3 linked regions of the Homo sapiens genome follow. The protein of the gene in region 2 purifies or fractionates together with the protein of the main gene of each other region. This does not show direct contact. Each region holds a gene or a part of one and is shown on either strand. Other genes may lie near its edges. The genes, in order: ZNF430, SMYD5 and TUB.

Region 1 (3,647 bases), on a different chromosome or scaffold from region 2:
CCACACTGTTCACACTTGTAGAAGTTTTCTTCAGTATGAACTATCTTACCTATAATGAAGTGTGACAACCATTTAAAGGCCTTGTCACATTCTTTACATTTCTAGGATTTCTCACCAGTATGATTTTTTATGTTTAAAAGTTTTAGGTGTTGTCAAAAGCACTGTCACATCTTTCAAGTTTGTAGAGTTTCTTTTCAGTATGAATTATCTTTTTTTTTTTTTTCTGAGATGGAGTGCCACTCTTGTTGCCCAGGCTGGAGTGCAATGGCGCGATCTCAGCTCACTTCAACCTCTGCCTCCCGGGTTCAAGCAATTCTCCTGCCTCAGCCTCCCGAGTAGCTGGGATTACAGGCATGCACCACTACGCATGGCTAATTTTGTATTTTTAGTAGAGACAGGATTTCACCATGTTGGTCAGGCTGGTCTCGAACTCCCAACCTCATGTAATTCACCCGTCTCAGCCTCCCAAAGTGCTGGGATTACAGGTGTGAGCCACCGCACCCAGCCAGAATTATCTTATGTCTGGTAAGAATTGAGGACTTGTTGAAGGCTTTGCCATATTCTTCACACTCATAGGGTTCCTCTTCAGTATGAATGTTCTTATGTTTAGTAAGAATTCAGGACGGGTTAGAGGCTTTGCCACAATCTTCACATTTGTAGGGTTTCTCTCCAGTATGAATTACTTTGTTCAATAAGGTTTGAGGACTGGTTGAAAGCTTTGCCGTATTCTTCACAGTTGTAGGGTTTCTCTCCAGTATGAATTACCTTATGTTTAGTAAGAGTTGAAGACTGGCTAAAGGCTTTATCACATTCTAGGTATTTGTAAGATGTATCTCCAATATGAGTTATCTTATGTTTAGTAAGGTTTGAGAATTGGTTAAAAGCTTTGCCACATTCTTCACATTTGTAGGGTTTCTCTCCAGAATGAATTACCTTATGTGCAGTAAGTTTTGGGGACCGGTTAAAGGCTTTGCCACATTCTTCACATTTGTAGGGTTTCTCTCCAGTATGAATTATCTTATGTGCAGTAAGGTTTGAGGACTCATTAAAAGCTTTGCCACATTGTTCACATTTGTAGGGTTTCTCTCCAGTATGAATTCTTTTATGTTTAGTAAGGGTCGAGGACCAATTAAAGCCTTTGCCACATTCTTCACATTTGTAGAATTTCTCTCCAGTATGAATTATCTTATGTTTAGTAAGGTATGAGAATCGGTAAAAAGCTTTGCCACATTCTTCACATTTGTAAGGTTTCTCTCCAGCATGAATTATCTTATGTGTAGTAAGGGTTGAGGATTGGTTAAAAGCTTTGCCACATTCTTCACATTTGTAGGGTTTCTCTCCAGTATGAATAATCTTATGTGTAGTAAGGTGTGAGGACCGGTTAAAAGCTCTGCCACATTCTTCACATCTGTAGGGTTTCTCTCCAGTATGAATTCTTTTATGTGTAGTAAGGTGTGAGGACCGGTTAAAGGTTTTGCCACATTCTTCACATCTGTAGGGTTTCTCTCCAGTATGAATTATCTTATGTGTAGTAAGGGTTGAGGACTGCTTAAAAGCTTTGCCACATTGTTCACATTTGTAGGGTTTCTCTCCAGTATGAATTCTTCTGTGTCTAGTAAGGGTTGAGAACCAGTTAAAGACTTTACCACATTCTTCACATTGGTAAGAATTTTCCCTAATATGAATTCTTTTATGTTGAGTTAGGTGTAAAAGCATGCAAAACGATTTGTCACATTTTTTACATTTGAAAGGCTTCTTTCCAGTATGTCTTATCTTTTGTATATTTGGATTTGAAAATTTATAAAAGACATTCACATATTTATCATATTGAAATATTTCACTCTGGGTAGTTGTCAAACACTGGTTTAGTTCATCATAACATTCTTTGTGCAGATTACACTCATCCACACTTTTACAGCCTGTTCTTAACTGTAAATCTTCATGTCCACATTTTCCATATCTTCTCAATATGACTTCTTGGAAAGAATCTTTTATGCCCTGCTCTGGCCAAAGGTCTTGGGCAAAATGAGAATATGTAACTGAAAGAAATAAAAATAACAAATTACTCCATTTACTAGACTCAGATGAATATGCTTTACAAATCTAACCCATATAATTATACAAACTACATAAACAAGATGGCATAGCAAAATAATAAAGGCCCTAATTTTTTTTTTTTTTTAGACAGAGTCTCATTCTGTAGCCCAGGATGGAGTGCAATGGCGTGATCTCTGCTCACTGCCACCTCCGCCACCCAGGCTCAAGCTATTCTCCTGCCCCAGCCTCCAAAGTAGCTGGGATTACAGGCACGCACCACCACGCACAGCTAATTTTTGTATTTTTAGTAGAGATGGGGTTTCGCCATGTTGGCCAGTCTGGTCTCGAACTCCTGACCTCAGATGATGCGTCCACTTCAGCCTCCCAAAGTGCTGGGATTACCGCACTTTGGCACACCAGCCACCGCGCCTGGCCCAAAGGCCCTAATTTTTTACAGACATGTAAATGTAACAAAAACATCCAACAAAAATACATCTGAGGAAAATTTATAAATAAGTTAAGTGTGTGAAGTGCCCCAGCTGAGCACAACATAGAGAGTGACACAGAAGAAAAAGAAAAGTCTGTTAAATTTACCCAACACAGCTCTTCCTGCTCCCCACTGCCAACTTTTGGTTTCTTTTTTAAAAGACAATTAAAATACTGCCACATACATCTTTATTACTTGCTTCTAGGGACCTATCTATACACTGGTTTCTGTCTCCTATGACATCTAGTGCTGAAAGAAATGGTGGTATACTTTGGAATGACAGTTTAAGTCTGCTGAGACCAAAGCTAAATGTTACAGCAGCAGAGAGACTGCAGTGCCACACACAGAAAACAGGTGTAGCAAGTTATTACTATTAAGAAGAAACAAAAAAAGGCCAGTTGTGGTGGTTCATGCCTGTAATTCCAGTACTTTGGGAGGCCAAGGCTGGCGGATCACTTGAGGTCACAAGTTTGAGACCAGCCTGGCCAACATGGTGAAACTCCATCTCTACTAAAAAAACAAAAGAAAAGTTAGCCAGGTGTGATAGCGTACACCTGTATTCCCAGCTACTTGGGAGGCTGAGGCAGGAGAATCACTTGAACCCAGGTGGCGGAGGGTGCAGTGAGCCGAGATTGCGCCACTGCACTCCAGTCTGGGAGACAGAGCAAGACCCCGTCTGACAAAAAAACAAAAAACAAACAAAAAAAAAAACTAAAAAAAGAAGAAACACAAACTCTTTTAATTAAAAAATAAACACAAAATTGTAGACAAGACACATTCTAGCAACATGTTTGAGAGACTCCCAGTATCTCTAATCAAGACAATTGTCCAGACTATGCCAGGACAAAGCTACATTATAAGGATTGTGACAGGTAGCTTTTTTAAATGTACAAATTTCAATCAAAGATTACAATGTATACAAAATAAGGCAATATGGTTTTATCAAAAATATAAAAGTTTCAGAGAGAAACCATAAAAAATGTATATATTAATTTTAAAAATTGAAAACAAATTGAATAATACTCAGTGAGTGACACAGAAACATAGAGAACTACAGAAAATCAGAAAAATGAGGGTAAGAACAAAAATATGTAAAATACCAGAAAAACAGAAATTATGAAGG
Region 2 (4,342 bases):
ACCTGTAGTCCCAGCTACTCGGAAGGCTGAGGCAGGAGAATCGCTTGAACCCAGGAGGCGGAGGTTGCAGTGAGCCAAGATTGTACTACTGCACTATAGCCTGGGCAACAGAGTAAGACTCCATCTCAAAAAAAAAAAGAAGGTTGGAGAGCACTGAACCTGAATGGAAAGGGGACAAACCATACATACTTCCAATTTGAAAAAAAAGTTTTAAGAAAAAATCGTGCAGGCCGGGTATGGTGGCTCACACTGTAAATCTAGCACTTTGGGAAGCAAGGATGAAGGATCGCTTGAGCCCAGGAGTTTGAGACCAGCCTGGGCAACACAGCAAGACCCCATCTCTATAAAAAAAAATAGTGCAAAACTCTTAAGACTATGTAATAGATTTTTGTTGTTGTTGTTGAGATGGAGTCTCCCTCTGTCGCCCAGGCTGGAGTGCAGTAGCACGACCTCAGCTCACTGCAACTTCTGCCTCCTGGGTTCAAGCAATTCTCGTGCCTGGCCCTCAGGTAGCTGGGATTACAGGTGTGCACCACCACGCCCGACTAATTTTTGTATTTTTAGTACAGATGGGGTTTCACCATGTTGGTCAGGCTGGTCTCGAACTCCTGACATCAAGTTCAAGTGATCCGCCCCTCTCGGCCTCCCAAAGTGCTGGGATTACAGGTGTGAGCCACCACGCCAGGCCTAATTTTTGTATTTTTAGTAGAGACAGGGTTTCACCATGTTGGCCAGACTGGTCTTGAACTCCTGATCTCAAGTGATCAGCCCACCTTGGCCTCCGAAAGCGCTGGAATTAAAGGAATGAGCCACCATGCCCGGGCAGACTATGTAGTAGATTTTAAAATCTTGATTAAAAGAAGAAAGCCCACAATAAGCCATGCTGCTATCCGGCTAGTGCACCAGTATGGTAATCCAGCTGGCTTCCACTGGACCTGGTGAGGTTTCTGTTCTGACTGGTCATGTCTCTGGCATAATAGTTGATAAATTTTTGAAAAGTCATTCCTATCCACAGAAGCAATAAACAGTAGTCAAAAACTACTCCCACTTGAGGCCCCTGGTCTATATAGTTTCATGACCCAATTCTCTCAAACCTTTAAAGAATAAATAATGCTCATGCTATTTAAACAATGTAATGACAGAAAGCATTTCTGTTTTACCAAAAAAAAACAAGTATAACCCTCATGTGGCAACTTGAGGAAAATAACACAGAGAAAAAAATCACAAACCAATCTCATTTGAATAGAGAAGCAAAAAGCCCAGGATAATCCATGCTGTTACCAAGTCCAGGCAGGTATGTTATTTTCTCCAGCAGCAGATCAGATGTAGGCAAGGAGAGGGCAATCAGCTAGGGCCTTGATAGAAGCCTGGGACAGGAAAACTGTGCAAGGAGAGTGGCTGAAGTGAAGAAGCGAGAGGGAAGAAATGAAGAAAGGAAGGGGCTGAGAGACTGGGGGCTAATGAAGAAAAAGGTGAAGAATATCACTGCAAACCAAGAATGATGGAACTGAGAGGCCTTCAAACTGTGGCCACCCAGGAGCACTAGAGACTATGGAGATGGAGATAGGAACAGGTAAGGAGACCAGGGATGTAGGGAAGCTGATTTACCAGGGAAGGAGCAAACTGCTCCAGATACCTCTAGAGCAGAAAGGGGGCACGGAAGGTTGAGCTGGAAAACTAGATCAATATGATGACGCTGAGAGCAGACAACAGACAACTAGAGGTCTTACGTCTTGGGCAAGAACCAACCATACACACAGCCACTACACAGGATAAATTATTCAACCTCACTAGTAACCAAAGAAACGTAAATGAGAACAAATATAATTTTACACATATCAATAGGCAAAGATAACTAGGAAAAAAATACTGCTGGACAAAACAAGAGGATGTTTGCACAGAAAATGAGCTCTAAGACTTTTGACTCTGGGGATGAAAAATACCATACAACAATAAAGGGTCCATTAATAAGGGGTTGGTTGAGTGAACTGTGACCCTCTCACGGAAGAAGCTACTACTCAGCTCTTAAAACTTAATATGTAGAAATAGGCTTGATATTGAAAGATTCACTGCTGCATCAAAAAGCAGTTTCTAAAAATGTAATTTTAACGTACTCATCTTTGCACAAGTATAGAAGTATGGGTGATTTTTGTATTTTCTTTCCTTACATGCATTTTGTATTTTTTTCTACAATGAACTTTTGGAACACAATAAAAACGACAAAATCACGTCACCTTCCTGCTAAAAACTCTCCCAATGCCCCCACGGCCTTTGGACTCTGGTCCAAATTCCTCAGCACTCCAAGGACCCTCGTGAAGGATCTTGGCCTCTCTCCTCATCCCCTCACCCAAATCTCACACATGAAGTTCGTGAGGACTCCCTCTTTTACACCTCAGTTCTCTCTGCCCGGCACATCCCCGCCCACCGTTCCAGGGATACAGCAGCAAAGCCCCCTAGCCCCGCCCCGAGCAGCCACAGAAGGGCCTCCCGCGGGCTGGCCGAATTCCGCTGGGAGGAAATGCGCACGGAGACTCCGGAGGCCCGGGTCTATCGCGTGACCGCGCCACGAGCCTGCGCGCAGGGACAGACTGGGAGCCCCCGGGCCGCGAGCAGGGGCAGGGCCGTAGCGTCCGAGCGGCACAGAAGCCTCTGGGCTCCGGGCATGGAGTCCGGCCGGGCTGTCTCCATGGCCGGACTGGGGAGAGGCTCCCGGCAGGACCCGCCCCGACCTCACCTTGGCGCTGCTCACGAAACGGACTTCCACGGAGACCCGCGCGCGGCCCGCCACGCCCACGCAGAAGGAGAACACGTCGCACATGGAGGCCGCCATCTTGGGCGCGCCTCCGCCTTATGACCCTTAACCCCGCCTCGACCTGAGAGGCCACACCCCCTTCTGGTCCCGCCCCCGGCGAGAGTGCCCCTGAGGCTGCGAGGTTTTGGGCTCCACCAAGTCTGAATTTAGGTTCCGTGGTTTGTTGACGGGAGTGTAACTGGGCCTGCCTTTGTGCTTTTACATCGGTGCCTTTTTGTGTCTGTACCTCTGTATCAGAGTCTGTGTGCGCGTACAGTTTTGATGTGTGTATCTTTGAGTCCGTTGCATGTTTTGTTGTGGTTTTTTTTTTTTGAGATAGTCTCACTCTGTCGCCCAGGCTGGTGTGCAGTGGCGCGATCTCGGCTCAGTGCAACCTCTGCCTCCCAGGTTCAAGTGATTCATTCTCCTGCCTCAGCCTCCCGAGTAGCTGGGCGTACAGGCGTGCGCCACTAAGCCCAGCTAATTTTTGTATTTTTAGGGGTTTCACCATGTTGGCCAGGCTGGTCTCGAACTCCTGACCTCAAGTGATCCGCCCGCCTCGACCTCCTAAAGTGTTGGGATTACAGGCGTGAGCCACCTCGCCCGGCCTCCGATGCATGTTTCTATGTATGTTGTCTCTGTCCACACAGTGGCCTGTCTTCACTGAGTAAAGCGCTCTTTGGACCCAGCCCTAGAGTGGGACAGCAGAAGGCCAACTTACTCCTATCCTGTCTAGCTCTCAGCCTGAAGGGAAGGACTAGCTTATACCCCGGAGCTCACTCACCCCACTTGAAGAGTCCAGGACAAGATTTCCTTTCTCGGTAATCCCTCTGGCAGCAGAACAGTCCTGCCAAAGGTCAGGGTGGACTTGTGCCTCTGTCAGATTCTTCAATGGCTTAGGGACCTTGCAACCGGGGGTAGCGGAGGAGTCCATAGGGGACCTCAGATCTGAGAACCTCTGAAACTGGATACAGAAGTGAGTGTGCATATGCACACACTGTCGTGAAAAGGGGGAGGGGCCTGTTCTCTCAGGACCCCAAGAAGCTGCAAACCACAGACCTATGGCATTTGTCCCCACAGCTAGGCCTGACTATCAAGCCTTGTTTTGTTTCCTTGTCCCCTGATTTTGTGAGTTTTGTTTGAGACAGGGTCTCGCTTTGTCGCCCATACTGGCATGGGGCGATCTCGGCTCACGGCAGCCTCCAGCTCCCGGGCTCAAGAACAGACTGGGCAACGTAGTGAGACCTTGTCTCTCCAAAAAATAGAAAAATTTGCCGGGCGTGGTGATGCGTGGGAGGATCACCTGAACCTGGGGAGGTCTAGACTGCAATGAGCCGTGATCAAGCCACAATTATCTATCAAATAATTATAGATAGATAGATAGTTGGCAGGGACAGAGAAAGGTTCTTGAAACTGACCCTGCCTCTCCTCAAGCTTGCAACCTGGTGTCAAGGAGCGAATAGTCCACGGACTTGGGGGAGATAGATAGTTGGCAGGGCCAGAGAAGAGGCTCTTGAAACCGACCCTGGGTCCCCTCAAGCCTGCAGCCCG
Region 3 (3,647 bases), on a different chromosome or scaffold from region 2:
GTGCAGACAAAGGGCTCAGGGAGCTATGGGTCAGTGGAACCCAGAGAAGAACCTAAAATACTGCGAGGCAGGGTATGGGCCAGCAGTTAGATGAAGAAGCTCAGCCCTGAGGTGAGGCAACTACCAGTAGTTCGATGTATCTGGAGGCTCCAGGTCATAACGAAGCCACAGAAGGAGGGGAGCACCACGACTGCTAAGGTTCTTCCTAACCGCAAAAGCCAGATGCCTGCAACCTTTTTAGAATTACTATTTGATGAAGTAGCAGCCTGGATTACTAGCACCAGCAGGGGGCAGTGGAGACTGAGTCTGAGTCCTCCTTTCAAGCTCAGAGACCCCCAACCCCTCAGTCTGGCCTGGCCTACTCTTCACCTAACCCAAGCAGGAAGGAGGGTCCTGAGAACAGAGATGTGCTGCAGCCATCTCTGGAGATGTGCTCTCTCCAGGATGAGCTGCAGAGAATTTCTCCCAACTGGGCTCTGCCGAGACCTGGAACATTTAAGGATGGGAGCTGCAGGCTCCAGGTCACTACAGCTCTTAAGGAGTTGTGAGCCAGAGAGAGGGATCTGCAAGTCAGAAGCCAGGCAGACACGGTGCAGAGAGGGAAGGAAAAAGGTGTTTGTACTGAGACACTGGTTGATATGGGGCAGGACAGTGAGACGGATTCCTCTCAGAATGTAGAATACTGGTGGGGAGCAGGTCATCTACTCTTAGAAGCTACCTCCTGCACTCAGTGAAATGCTCCAGATCAAAACTTGGACTTCTGAACTCCTGGCCTCATAAAAGGTTTAGGCTTCTGGCCTCAGTGCCTGATTCAGGAGGTGTCAGCTGGAGCATACACAGGCGCCCAAGGCTACAGGTCCACCTTCCCTCTGCCCTCCCTACTCAGCTGTCTGCCTGGGCTGGAAGCCATACACAGCCTGGGCATCCCCCGTCAGGACCAGTCCGCACCTGCCTAGGTGGGCAGGAAGTGACGGGCTCCCCGAAGCAGTGACGGGATGTGGGGCAGCAGGCAAGGTATACCTTGGTAGCTGGTGCTGCCACTGCTGCTGAGGTAGGACTCCACCAGGGGGGCTTGTTCCTCTGACTGCCGGGCCCGCCGGCTCCGGGGCCGCCCATCTGCATTGGCCTGCACCATCAGGGGCTCCTGGCGCTTCTTCTTCTGCTTCTGCTCCAGCAGGGCCCGCTATGGAGGCACAGAGGTTGGCTGACCCACTGCCTCCACCAGGAAGGGCGGGCTCCCAGTTATCGGGGGGTCCACAGCCCACCTTGGGCCAAGGCCCCATGTCCTTGGCACCCCAACACTTGGGGTCCAGGAAAGGGAGGCAAAACAGGGCCCAGGTGGCTGCCCTGGCAGGATCACAGCACAGCCAGCCCTCCAACTGCAGTCACCCAGCTGCCTGAAGGCAGGAGCCCATGTGCCGCGGCAGGGTTAGTGCTGAGCTGGGAGAGAGTGCACCTCTCTTCTTCCACATGGGAATCCCATCCCCCAATCAGACGGGATCATCCAGGGAAGATGGACAGCCCTGCCCCTCTGCCCTCAGAGATCCCAGCCCAGACTCTTCCCTTCTACCCGGCCCCAGGCCTACTCACCTGCCGATCAAGCTTCTGCTGCCTCAGGTTTCTGCCCTCATCATCTAAGACACTGCAGAGCGAAAGAGGGGTTTTCAGGGCTTGCCCGTGAGGTGCCAGGATATACAGCCCAGAGCCCACCCCCAGCATATCTGGGCCCGTTAAACCCATCCCATCACGGCTGCTGGGACTCAGTGAGCCCACATGGTAGAAGGAGGAAGGGTGGAGCCTGCCATCTTGAAACCAGCTTGAACCAAAAGGGCTCGAGCTGCCACTTTGGAAGCCTGCTAGGACCCCTGTTTCCCCAGGGACTCCCCAGTAAATACCGGATGAGACCCTCCCCTCAGATCCCTGAGCAGGGCCGGGCCTGACTGAGATCCAAGAGAACTATCCAGAGGCATCCCAGCAACAAGCCAGGCCCGAGGCCAGGCTTCAAACAAACCCAGGGGGCTGCTCCCTCCAGCTCCCTACTGGGATCTCACCAGCCCCAGCCTTTTCCTTCCTTCCCACCATTCTAGAGGAGGCTGCGTCCTCTGGGGCAGACCCTTTCCCCATCCGTTGAAAGCAAACTCCTAGCTTTCCAGGTGGGCAGAGTAGAGTCCTGACTTTGTCTACTCCCCTTCCCCACTTAAAGAGGGCAGAGGGTCCTCCTTCTCATTTGAGAGAATGAAGCTAAGAGACCAACCAGTCCCTCAGCCTACAGGGTTTGGGCCACACAGAGGTGTCTGCAGGGTGGACACAACACATCAATGTACAGCCCAGCAACCAGCTACCAGGTCCTTCCCGGGCTGCAGACATGGCACAGGCAGCCCTGGGGACATCAAATTCTTGAGCCCCACCAGTCTTGGGACAGGGAGCCTCATCTCACCCGCACTGGCCATGCCTCTGAGGAAGGCAGGGCACAAGTAGGGAACTGGTAACTCAAATCACTTAGCTTTTTGCTAGCCAGAGACACATGCATGAGACCTAGGCCCAAATGCTATAAAGGCCAAGGTGTGGACAGCTGCATGAGGTGAGGTTGGAGCCTGAGGATCTGAGCTCTGGGGAAGCCCCAGGCGGCCCTGGCCCAGTTATTCTGAAGCTGCCCCTGAACCAGACTGTGTCCAGGTTCCTGCACAGGCGTGCCCGAGTGCATTAGGTTTGTGTGAGGCCATAAGGAAGTGTGTGAATATCTCATGTGTGTGCACATGTGCATGCAGACACCTGTGAAGAAGTGGGTGTGCTCGTGTGAAGGTGAGCGCAGTGTGCGTGCAAAGGGGAAACAGGAGGTCACATCACCCTGAGGACAAAGTGAAGCCACTTTCACCTCCTCCTGATGGCTAGCCCTTTCTAGCTGGAACAATCATTGACCACCTACATGAGCCTTCAACTACTTGCACCTCCAAGGGAGCCAGTCAGAGGGTAGAAGGAAGCCCCCATAACACAGACTGCCCACCACCTTGGCCACGATCTATGAGGACTATGCATGTTTTTTAACTAGCAGGTGTCCTGCCTACTTGACATCTGGGAAGGTCTTTCCTTGTACCCACGAGCTGCTCTGCATGTCAGAGGAGCCCCAGCTGTGATCTGGGGCTGTGTGCACAACAGCCTCATTCACCAAACCCTCAGCTGCCAGAGCACAGGAGAAAACACCGCTCAAGAGCCATACTTCTAGGCCTTGGTCTTCTTGAAACAGCCCATCTGCCTAAGAGGGCACAGCTGCATTTGGGGCTCCCTGAGGGCATTGCCAGGACCACAGGATGCAACCAGGTCCCTAAATATTCCAGCTGGCTGAGAGGCTGGGCATCCCATTGTGGAAGGCACACACCCAGGCTGGAGGACTGCAGTGAAGACTTCTGAAGAAAGGGTTCAGGACCAGAGCGCAAAATGCCTGAGGGCCCTGCCAGGCCTGAGAGGCTACAACCCTCCCATCTCTACAGCTCAAGCCAACAGCCTGACTGAATAAGCAAAGTCAAAGCATTTGCCCACAGACGGACTTGAAAGGGTCAGACCCGAACACCAGTGTCCCCCGTGGTCAGCCACACGCACAGTGCATACACATCACAACTTTCAGGACACACGTGAAAAATGCAGTCTAA

What was found.
Region 1: the proteins of SMYD5 (region 2) and ZNF430 purify together in Homo sapiens (affinity purification with mass spectrometry; one large-scale study listed by BioGRID and IntAct). This does not show direct contact.
Region 3: the proteins of SMYD5 (region 2) and TUB purify together in Homo sapiens (affinity purification with mass spectrometry; one large-scale study listed by BioGRID and IntAct). This does not show direct contact.

The regions. Positions count from the first base shown.
Region 1 is NC_000019.10:21,055,023-21,058,669, reverse strand, and holds part of ZNF430 (zinc finger protein 430), read right to left. Parts: intron 2,040-3,647; coding exon 649-2,039; 3' UTR 1-648. UniProt on the Homo sapiens protein: May be involved in transcriptional regulation.
Region 2 is NC_000002.12:73,212,755-73,217,096, reverse strand, and holds the start of SMYD5 (protein-lysine N-trimethyltransferase SMYD5), read right to left. Parts: upstream 2,853-4,342; 5' UTR 2,831-2,852; coding exon 2,735-2,830; intron 1-2,734. UniProt on the Homo sapiens protein: Protein-lysine N-trimethyltransferase that specifically catalyzes trimethylation of 'Lys-22' of the RPL40/eL40 subunit of the 60S ribosome, thereby promoting translation elongation and protein synthesis.
Region 3 is NC_000011.10:8,087,605-8,091,251, reverse strand, and holds part of TUB (tubby protein homolog), read right to left. Parts: intron 1,643-3,647; coding exon 1,591-1,642; intron 1,184-1,590; coding exon 1,021-1,183; intron 1-1,020. UniProt on the Homo sapiens protein: Functions in signal transduction from heterotrimeric G protein-coupled receptors. Binds to membranes containing phosphatidylinositol 4,5-bisphosphate. Can bind DNA (in vitro). May contribute to the regulation of transcription in the nucleus.